Regions from separate parts of the Homo sapiens genome. Here region 2 is linked to region 1. Evidence: fine-mapped expression QTL. A gene starts in region 1. The other region holds a variant in brackets. All regions are shown on one strand. Distances are from middle to middle.

Evidence for each region.
Region 2: its variant is fine-mapped to the expression of CEP85L in monocytes after LPS (Quach 2016, PIP 0.95).

The regions. Positions count from the first base shown.
Region 1 is chr6:118,649,553-118,654,552 of GRCh38, reverse strand. CEP85L (centrosomal protein 85L) reads left to right here and starts at 2,962. Exons shown (of 13, transcript NM_001042475.3): 1 at 2,962-3,356. The coding sequence starts at 3,284. RefSeq lists silencers at 2,609-3,068, 3,269-3,578.
Region 2 is chr6:118,789,775-118,795,300 of GRCh38, reverse strand. No RefSeq gene overlaps it. Among named protein-coding and RNA genes, the nearest start is that of ASF1A, 100 kb to the left of the region's middle. The variant A/G (reference allele first, on the strand shown) is at 3,147.

The sequences.
Region 1 (5,000 bases):
AAGAGGTTGTATAGCATGGTCCTTGATACACACTTGATATACAAGAATTGTCTAGTCCTTGGAATCTTTTAGAATTCATTCATAAATCTCTTTCTATGTAGTAGCAATAGTTCTTTAGGAACTATTTCAATTGTTATTGGTTGGTTTACTTTTCCTACATATTGTTGGGTTCTTTTGCTATTTATATATTTTATATTTTTGTAAATATAAAGCTCTCTTGAGCTTTCCTCATATTATGCATGGGGTTTCCTTCTCATTTTATTTATTTTTTAGAGGCAGGGTTTTGCTCTGTTGCCCAGGCTTGAGTGCGGTGGCACAATCATTACAGCTCACTACAGCCTCCAACTCCTGGGCTTAAGTGATTCTCCTGCCTTGGTCTCTCAAAGCACTGGATTACAGGCATGAGTGACTGCACCTGGCTCTTCTAATTTAAAAATATCACTTTTATTCATTGTCATATCCCTCTTCAGTTCTGTAGATGATGTTTGCACAATCTGATAAATTTGAATCAGAAAAACACATGTAAGATAGCTCAACTTAATCAGTTCAAAGATTTATATACAAATTTAAGAATTATAAATGCAACACTTATTTTTCAGTTTTAAATAATGTCTTTTTTTGAAATGAGACATTTTAAACAAATAGTTTAATATAGTTTGGTATTAAATGTGGCATTTTTAGTACTATTTTCTTCTTTTGTGATCTAGTTTATATTCTTAAAAAGTCCCCTCCCAAAACATTAAATATCCTAATTTCATCTGAGCAATGATACTTATACACACACACACACACACACACACACATACACAGAGTCACTATTTTCATTACTTATATCTGCACAGAACAACTGCCAAGATTGAGGTTTATTGAGGTTCAACGATAACTGTCTTTGCTTTTAAAATTCTCCTTGTAGTCCTAACACACTGTCACAACAAAACAAAAATATGGCAGTTTACCACATGGGGTTTAGTAATGGTTAGATAGTCCTTAGGTTCTCCAACTTGTGTTATGATAAATTTTAATCATTCTGAAAACCATGGCTGTATCATACCATGTACATATCATCCATGTATCATGGATTTGGGGGGAAGCATTAGTTCAGTATATACTCAGAATTCATATGATTAAAAGAAATGGATACTTTAGCAACATAATATTCTCACTTAGTATTTCAATTAGTTCTAATTGCATTAGCCCTCTATCCTCCCAAGTTTAATTACTAGGGACACAAAAATTTCATATTTGGTGCCAAGTGCCAAAAGAGCAACATGTTTTTACTGTTTGCTTTTACTCTGTAATAGATATTGAAATATTTTAGATACTTTCACCTTCGCATGTACTTTTTTTGTGTGTAGTAGCATGCCCTTTATATTGATAAAAAGATGTAGAAAACCCGAGTAAACGATTTTCTTTAAACACTGTTTAGAATTAGGAAATTGGCAGTTTTGAAATAATAAGTGTATTTTAAACTCGCAAAGGCCAAGATATTTCTGTAATATTTTATACACTTCTTAGAACTGCATCACAAATGAATTTCAAAAATTCTGTTCCTGAGACTGTGGTAACTACAAAGCATGAAAAAAAAATCTATACATAGTGCTATAGCTTCTGCTAATTTTCTTTTTGGGACTTAAAAAAATCTATCCTCTTCAAGTGTTAGATAAAACGAGCTAGTGCACATTAAAATAATAAAAAGGAACCAATCACATTCGTCTTTCATGTTTCTGTATCTTTTTATCATCAGAAACAGCTGACCCTTGGCTAACATTACATGATTTGGAGAAATAATTGGAAGTCTACCACAGGGAGACTAAATGTAAAACTCCAATCAGATAAATTACAACACGGATGTGGTAAGTGATAGAACACACACCTAAATCTAATTTAACTTCCAAGAATTTTAAGTAGTATTTCCCAATTAAAATGTCTTTAAGGGAAAAATGCAAATATGAGGCCTTTGTTAGCAAGATTCCAGAACAGGAAAAGCGGAACTCAAAGCCTCTCTAGTTAAGCGACCTGCGTTCCGACTTACCTCTGAGTGATGGGCCTACTGCAGAGCCCGCCTCCCACCACAGTGCTGGCCCAGAATTTTTTATACGAACTAGTTCGTAACTAAACGTTGGAAGCATCACCATATTGCCAGTGAGAAGTAAGATTTAAAAATAAAACGATGCTGTCCCTTTTCGCCCTTCCTTAGGACGTCTCCTCCTGCACTAAGGGTTCAGGTGAAGGGTGGAAACTGGCCAAGAAGAGGAAGAACGTGAAGGAGTAGGGGGCAAGGAGGAAAGGGCTCCCTTTACAGACTTTGGTGCCATTTTTACTTTCTGCTTGCTAATCTGAAACGTTGTGCGATTACAATGACGGCCCCTCTCCCCCTCGGGTACTAATTACCCCCGGGCCTTTTCCGGTGCACATCCCGGTGCTATATTCTGGTGCCTGTGTTGCCCCCACGCCCCCATTAAATTAGTAAAGGAAAACCACCCCTTTTCTGCCCCTAAAGTAATCTATAAACGAAGGAATACAGATGAGGATTTAAATCCCAATCCTAATTCCAAGGGAGGCTGGAAGCCCCCTCAGCCGCGCCCTGGCTTGGCTTTTTCATCTCGAGCGGTTGTGACGCCAGGGGCAGGTCTTCCACGTGTCTTCACAGAGGTGCCCGGAGGGAGGGCGTGAGGGATTACCCAAGGGAGGGGCGAGTATCGCAAAATAGGCCAAGTCGCTGCCCTCTACTCAACTCGCAGGGCGGGAGGATGGAGACAGAGGGATGCGGCGGGAGGGCGGGACAGCCCAGTCGCCGCCAAGGAGGCGAAGCGGGGTCGGGGTAGCTCACCCGCCCCCCGCAGTCCCCGCCCCCCGCAGTCCCCGCCCCGCGCGGCGCCGCGCACGCCTGAAGTCATTGCCCGAGGCCCCGCCCCCTCGCGGCCCCAGCCCCGGCTCTGGCTCTGCCGGCGGAGGGGGCGGAGAGAACCCGCAGCTGCAACTTCGCCTGGAGCCTTTGAGCCTGGGCTCAGCCGGGGATCTAGCAGCCGTCACCGCCGAGTCGCCGCTTCCCCGGCGCGGGCCTCAGCCCAGCCGGCTTGGCCATGGCAGGCGCCGGCAGTGCGGCGAATCTGGCCCCTGCGCTCCCCGCCCGTAGCTGAGCAGCCGTTAACCAGCCATCCCGCCTTTCCTCCTGCCCGTGTCGCCGAGGCCCACGCTCCGCGCAAGTTTCCGCCGCCGAAGAAGCAGGAGGACGGACGTGAGGAGTCGGGCGTCCCTGGCCCACCCGGCCCTCTCGCCCGCGATGTGGGGGCGCTTCCTGGCTCCGGAGGCCAGCGGCCGGGATAGCCCCGGCGGAGCCCGCAGCTTCCCTGCCGGTAAGGAACGGGACAGCGCCCCGGCTGGGGTGGGGGTCACGGCCGACCGCGGCGCCTCGGGACCTCGCCGCCGCTCCCCTCCCGCCTCAGGCCTGTCTTACCCCGGCCGCCTCCCCGACGCCGCCGCGTGCCCAGTGTCCTCCCCGCTGTCAGCACCCGGGCTGACATATGGCTTGCCGCGTCCCAGGCGCATCAGCCCCGCATCCCGTCGTCCCCGCCGCTCCTCCTTGGGCTGCAGCCCCAGCGCCCCCAACTTCCAGCTCGCTTGGGCCCCCGCGGGTTGGGCTTTATTGTCTGCCCGGTTTTTTCCTTTTACTCGTGGGGTGTGTGACCTGCGTGATAACGGGGCTTGCCCGTTTGCTCGCGGGGACCCGGGCGGGAAGGTCGCTGCGACAGTGCTGCGGCGGCGGCCCGGGCGCGTCTCGGAGGGGCCGCAGTTCCGCGCCCTCCCGACTTCTGGTAGGCGCAGGCTGGGGTTGGCTGTGCCCACGCCCGCAGCCGCTACTTTTAGGGCGCGTTTTCGGGAGGGAGGATGCTGCCAGAGATGCGGCCGCTCTCAGCCACCCCCAAGGGAACTTCAGCCCCTCGGAGGAACCTGGTCGCCGCCCCGCAGCCCCTGCGGCGTAAGAGGAGGGCGCGTCCTGCAGTAGCCAATGGACCATTGAGCAACCGGGTTACGAATCCGTTTGGCTTTCCGTGGCCCCTTCAAGGAAAATTAGGGGTTTGCTGCATTCCGTATCTGAAGGGGTCTGTTTGTATCGGACAGCCATTTCATGCTTGCGTCGCTCAGAAGTTGTGTAGGAGCCACAAAATTAGGATAAATCCTCCCCTAACTTGGGATAAAAAATAAGTCTTGGGTTGCCTGTGATATGTTCTCTAAAGATGATGGTCTTTCCAGGCACTTTTAATCTTGAGTTTTGAGGCCTTTTGAGAAACTGAGTTATATGGACATTCTGCGCAGAAAAAACAATGCCATATATACATACGCAAAATTTTCCCTACAATTTTAGCTGTTTCTGGGACTCCTGTTAAGTAACCTTGCTCCACAAAGTGTTTGAGCTCGACTTGTGTAACTTAGAGATATTTTTGCATACATTTCCAAAGCTGTTATTTACAAAACAAAAAAGCAGAAGCAGCATTTGGAAAGGGGTCTTTTGATGGTAATATTTTCTGCTATTTAAAAAAAATCAGGCACTGACCGAGTCACTAGTATCAGGCTATTGAAATTTCGAATAATGCAATTCTTTGATAGTTTAGATATTTGTGATGTGTGGTTTTTAAAAAGACATATGTACATTTTAAAAAGCCAGAGTTAGATTTGAATCATTCACTTAAGTTTGGTCCTGAAACACTTAATGTATGTTAATGAATGATTTGAATCATTCACTTAAGTTTGATCCTGAAATTTAATGTAGGCATGAATTTAGTAAAAAGCAGTATTAAGTAGGGATTTTTTTTTTCTAAATTGTATGTTATTTGTCCTAAGGAGACAGTTCAGAGGTTTCCCGAGTTTACAGATTATTCACAAATCCTGTCATCTAAGTAACTTCAGTGATTGAGAAGCTACTTCATTATCCCTAGGGGCTGGAGGGAGTGGTTTCAGTTTATCTGAAAATGTCAAAAGCCATCTGTAATGTCTTTGCA
Region 2 (5,526 bases), 140 kb before region 1:
ACCAAATTGCTTTTAGCAAAATCCTTTTATACTCAAATCAACACAGATGGGTTTTGTTCCTTGACACCAAGAATCCTGTTGGAGATGAAATCAAAAATTATTATGACTTTGGTGCCTTGTTCTTCAGGAGCTGGGCACACAAATGACTTCAGTAGTCTATATAATTGGGGAGAAGACAAGCCCCTTGAAGCATCTACTATGTTAGCATGTACTACGCCGGACAGTGAGGTTCAGAAATGAACACATGAGGCTTCTGCCCCCAGGGAACTCAGTGTGTTAGGAGAGATGAATCAATGATATAGCAATTCCATTAGAAAAAGTGCTAGAGATGTGTGGAGGGTATGATGGGGTCACCAAGGAGGAATACATACCTGTTTAGCTAAGACAGAGATGTTTTCTAGTTTGTTCTTGCTGCTATACCAAAGCATTCACAGACTGGGTAATTTATAAATAATTGAAATGTATTTCTCATAGTTCTGGAGCCTGGGAAGTCCAAGATCAAGGCTCCAGCAGATTCAGTGTCTAGAGAGGGCTTGCTTGCTGCTTCCAAAATGGCACCTTCTTCCTGCCTCTTCATATGGAGAAAGGAACAAATGCTGTGTCCTCATGTGGCAGAGAGTGGAAGGGGAGAAAGTGCCAGGCAGCTCTCTGAAGCCTCCTTTATAAGGACATTAATCCCATTTGTGAGGGCAGAGCTTTCGTAACTTAATCACTTCCCAAAAGGTCTCACCTCTGAATACTATCACATTGGGTACTAGGTTTCAACATGAATTTTGGAGAGACATAAACATTCAAACTATAGCAGACACTGAATGAGCAAGGCTTTGGAGAGAGGGACGTGATGCTTGAGTTGAGTCTTGAAAGAAGTGTAAAAGTATATTAGACAAAAGCAGAGGAGCCCAGAGAAAGAGGAGGTATTTCCCTGTGCAAGAGCAAAGGCCTGAAGGAGAGATTCAGCATGGTGTGTGTATTGGTCAGGGTTCTTTAGAGGGACAGAACTAATGGAATATATATATATATATATATATATAAAAATAAAGGGGAGTTTATTAAGTATTAACTCACATGATCACAAGGTCCCACAATAGGCCATCTGCAGGCTGAGGAGCAAGGAGAGCCAGTCTGAGTCCCAACACTGAAGAACACGGAGTCCAGTGTTCTAGGGCAGGGGGCATCCAGCACGGGAGAAAGATGTACGCTGGGAAGCTAGACCAGTCTCTCTCTTCACATTTTTCTGCCTGCTTTTTATTCTAGCCATGCTAGCAGCTGATTAGATTGTGCTCACCCAGATTAAGGATGGGTCTGCCTTTCCTAGCCCACTGACTCAAATGTTAATCTCCTTTGGCAACACCCTCACAGACACGCCCAGGATAAAAACTTTGTATCCTTGAATCCAATCAGGTTGACGCTCAGTATTAACCATTACAGCGTGTGTGGGATTAAGCAGTTTTGTGCTGCTAGAACCACCATGTTCCTGGTGAAGGATAAGGGAGTTGTCATGAGTAGTAGGCTCTGAGTACAGGGCTTGTGTGCAGAGGTCGAGATTGGGAAGAGCTGCCTATGAGTCTGGGATGTGGTGTGGACCAGGGATATGAAGAAAGATTCAGTGGTGCAGAGGGCTCAGGAGAGGCTAAATGCTGTGATATCTTTATGGAAACTGCCTACATGATTATCAGATTTTCTCCAGAAATACTCAGCTACTAGTATATACCAGTACAGAATAACGCTGGTCCAGAATTAGGTTTTCATTGTAAAAATAAAGGCAGGCATCTGAATTTGGAGAACCTGATCTTGGACCAGGTTTGCTCAGAAAGAACTAGGCCCACAATTGAAAGCTGCCTCTGGTTCAGATGGGGGAGAAGAGGTAGGGGTTGGCTGAGAAGGCTGGCAGGGTAGAGTCTCGACTGAAATCTGCCACGTATGGCCCACAATCCATTTCATGCCCTAACACAAGGGGTATTATAAGTTTTGAGTATAAAAGAAAATTATGGGCCGGGCGCAATGGCTCACACCTGTAATCCCAACACTTTGGGAGGCCGAGGCGGGCGGATTACCTGAGGTCAGGAGTTCAAGATCAGCCTGGGCAACATGGTGAAACCCTGTCTCTACTAAAAATACAAAATTAGCCGGGCTTGGTGACACATGCCTGTAATCCCAGCTACTTGGGAGGCTGAGGCAGGAGAATCGCTTGAAACTGGGAGGCAGAGGATGCGGTGAGCCGAGATCACGCCATTGCACTCCAGCCTGGGCAACAAGAGTAAATCTCTGTCTCACCAAAAAAGAAAAAAAGAAAATTGTGATTATAAAATACAATTTTAAAATAGACATCTCAATTCACCTCACCACACATATAAAGATACGTTTTACATTTTTATGGCGTGTCAACACACTATTCACTTCCCTTATGAGGGGAATGCATAAGCACCCTTTAAGCATTTTAAGGGAAAAGCTTGAAATTATTGTAATAAACAGAGGGCTTTCGTGTAAAAAGCATTTATTTGATCTTCACAAAAGCTCCCTGCAGAAGGTATCATTATGAACCCATTTTAAAGAAAGGGGAACCGAAGGGCAGAAAAGAAAACTTGCCCAAGATTACATAGGTGAGAAGCGGGTTAGGGTCTGACACATATGATCTGACTCCAGAGAAGGTGCCCCTAACGATGCATTCCATTGTCTCTCCTTGGAAATCTCACCTCCTCTTCATCATTATGCAATGAATTTTGTCCCCCTGCTATAGTTGGGATGTTTGTCCCACCCAGATCTCATGTTGGATTGTAATCCCCAGTGTTGGAGGTGGGGCCTGGTGGAAGGTGTTTGGGTCATGGGGGCAGATTCCTTGTGGCTTGGTGCTGTCCCCACGATGGTGAGTTATCATGAGATCTGATTGTTGAAAAGCGTGTGGCTCCTCCCTCCCCTTGCTCTCCCCATGTGGCATGCTGCTTCACCTCTGCCATGAATGAAAGCTCCCTGAGGCTTCCCCAGAAGCCAAGCAGATGCCTGTGCCATGCTTCCTAAACAGCCCGCAGAACTGTGAGCCAATTAACTCTCTTTTCTTTATAAATTACCCAGCCTCATGTATTCCTTTATAGCAATGCAAGAATGGTCTAACAACTCCCTCCTTCCCCGCCACTTCCCTAAATTAATAC[A/G]TTGAAGTCCTAACCCCCAGTACCTCAGAATGTGACTGCATTTGGAGATAGGGTCTTTACAGAGGAATTAAAGTGAGGTCATTAGGGTGGGCCCTGATCTAATATGACTGGTGTCTTTATGAGAATAGGAGATTTGGCACAGACACCTACAGAGGAAAGACTATGTGGTATGGTTTGGCTGTGTCCCCACCCAAATCTCACCTTGAACTGTAGCTCCCACAATTCCCATGTGATGTGGGATGGACCCAGTGGGAGGTAATTGAATCATGGGGGCGGTCTTTCCTGTGCTGTTCTCTTGATGGTGAATAAGTCTTATGAGATGTGATGGTTTTATAAAGAGGAGCTCCCCTGCACAAGTTCTCTGTTCCCTGCTGCCAAGTAAGATGTAACTTGCTCCTCCTTGCCCTCTGCCGTGATTGTGAGGCCTCCCCAGCAATGTGAAACTGTGAGTCAATTAAACCTCTTTCCTTTATAATCACCCAGTCTTGGGTATGTCTTTATTAGGCATGTGAGAACAGACTAATACACAATGCGAAGACACAGGAAGAAGACAGCAATTGTAAGCCAAGGCGAGGGGCCTAGAGCAGCTCTTTCCCTCGCAGCCCTCAAAAGGAGTGATCCCTGCCAACACCTTGATCTCAGACTTCTAGCGTCCCAGCCCGTGAGAAAATGAATTTCTGGAGGTGAAGCTTCCCAGGCTGTAGTACTTTATTATGGCAGGCCTAGAAAACGAATTCATTCACAGACCCCCAGTTAAGAAGAAGCAGGAGGAGGAGGCAAAAAACAAATTACTCTTTTAAGTGAATTCATCTCATGTTAAAATATAAAATATGTGAGAATGTGTGCATTTCATTAGATATGGGGAGCTTAATTGAATCATCTTTTAAAAGAAATAATCGGAATTTAGTTCTATAATAAGAGTAAAATCAAGAAAGCAGGAAAAGTCTGAATTTATATTGATGTAGTACCCTTGAAGTAGTATCATAGACCGGAAACAGCAGCTTCATTAAGGCCAAAGTGTGTTTGTTAATTAGCTGTGGTCCTCTCCAGTGAGCCGACCAATAGATGCCATCAATGATGAGAGAGCATGGACTTATTGACGAAAAGATGAAGTCAGTTGGGCATTAGACACACATGTTTCCTCCGAGGGCGGCAGTACTTTCATTAATAATGAATTCTGTCTTTCCTTATGTCTTCTGAGCTTCCCACTAATGCTGGAATTATTAGTGTGAAACATGAGGCCTTCCGGTAATTATAGGCAATTCAGAGAGTCTTAAAAAGTGTGATCATGTATTCCAGGGAAAAACAATGTCCAGCATTTTTTTTTAAATAAATTTCAACTCGTGTGTTTAGTACCTTCTACATGCAAGGTGGTGAAGTGCTGGCTCTGGAGGCTTTATTGTGTTTAGGATTCTGAAAGTGCTTATGGCCTGAGGCCCTGAAGAGGTCTGTATTCTGGCCTTTTATTTTATTTTTTTGAGACATTCTGACTCTGTCACCCAGGCTGGAGGGCAGTGGTGCCATCTTGGCTCAGTGCACCCTCCCAGGTTCAAGTGATTCTCCTGCTTCAGCCTCCCGCGTAGCTGGGACTACAGGCTTGTGCCACCACACCCAGCTAATATTTTGTATTTTTAGTAGAGATGGGGTTTCCATATGTTGGTCAGGCTGGTCTTGAACTCCTGGCCTCAAGTGATCTGCCTGCCTCAGCCTCCCAAAATTCTGGGATTACAGGAGTGAGCCACCATACTTGGCCTGTATTCTGACCATTTAAAGAGAAAAATAAATTAGGGAACATCCCAGTCGTGGGTCTGAATCATTTTAACATTTAAATGCCTTGTTTGTAGATTTGAAAGAAAATCAAACTTTGACCAGCTTGTCACTTTTTGGCTTCCTGTTCCATGCTTTATAGAGCCATATGTTTCATGTTTGAAAAAGTTTAAAATCAGTCAGCTTAATTAAATGTTTCATTTTCACAGACGTTTTAGTCTCCTTTCTCTCTATACCCAGGAGCTCGTGCTCTCATTTTACCAGCTCATTTCTTATGAGCTCAGAGGGGCTAAACATACTGTGTAGACTAACATAGGATCGACATGATGTAGGGGAATTTTAACATTTTTAGAGACAATAGACAGTGGCTGGCACTCAATCCAACTTTCAATAAATGAATGGAAAGAAAAGGATGGGCAGAGAATTGCTTGAATCCAGGAGGCAGAGGTTGCAGTAAGCCGAGATTGTGCCACTGCACTCCAGCCTGGGCAACCCAGCCAGACTCTGTCTCAAAAAAAAAAACAAAAAAAAAAAAAAAAAAAAAAACCTGTCACATTTTTCACACCAAAAACAAAAACACCAAAATCACATCAACAAGAAGTAAACCTTGTTC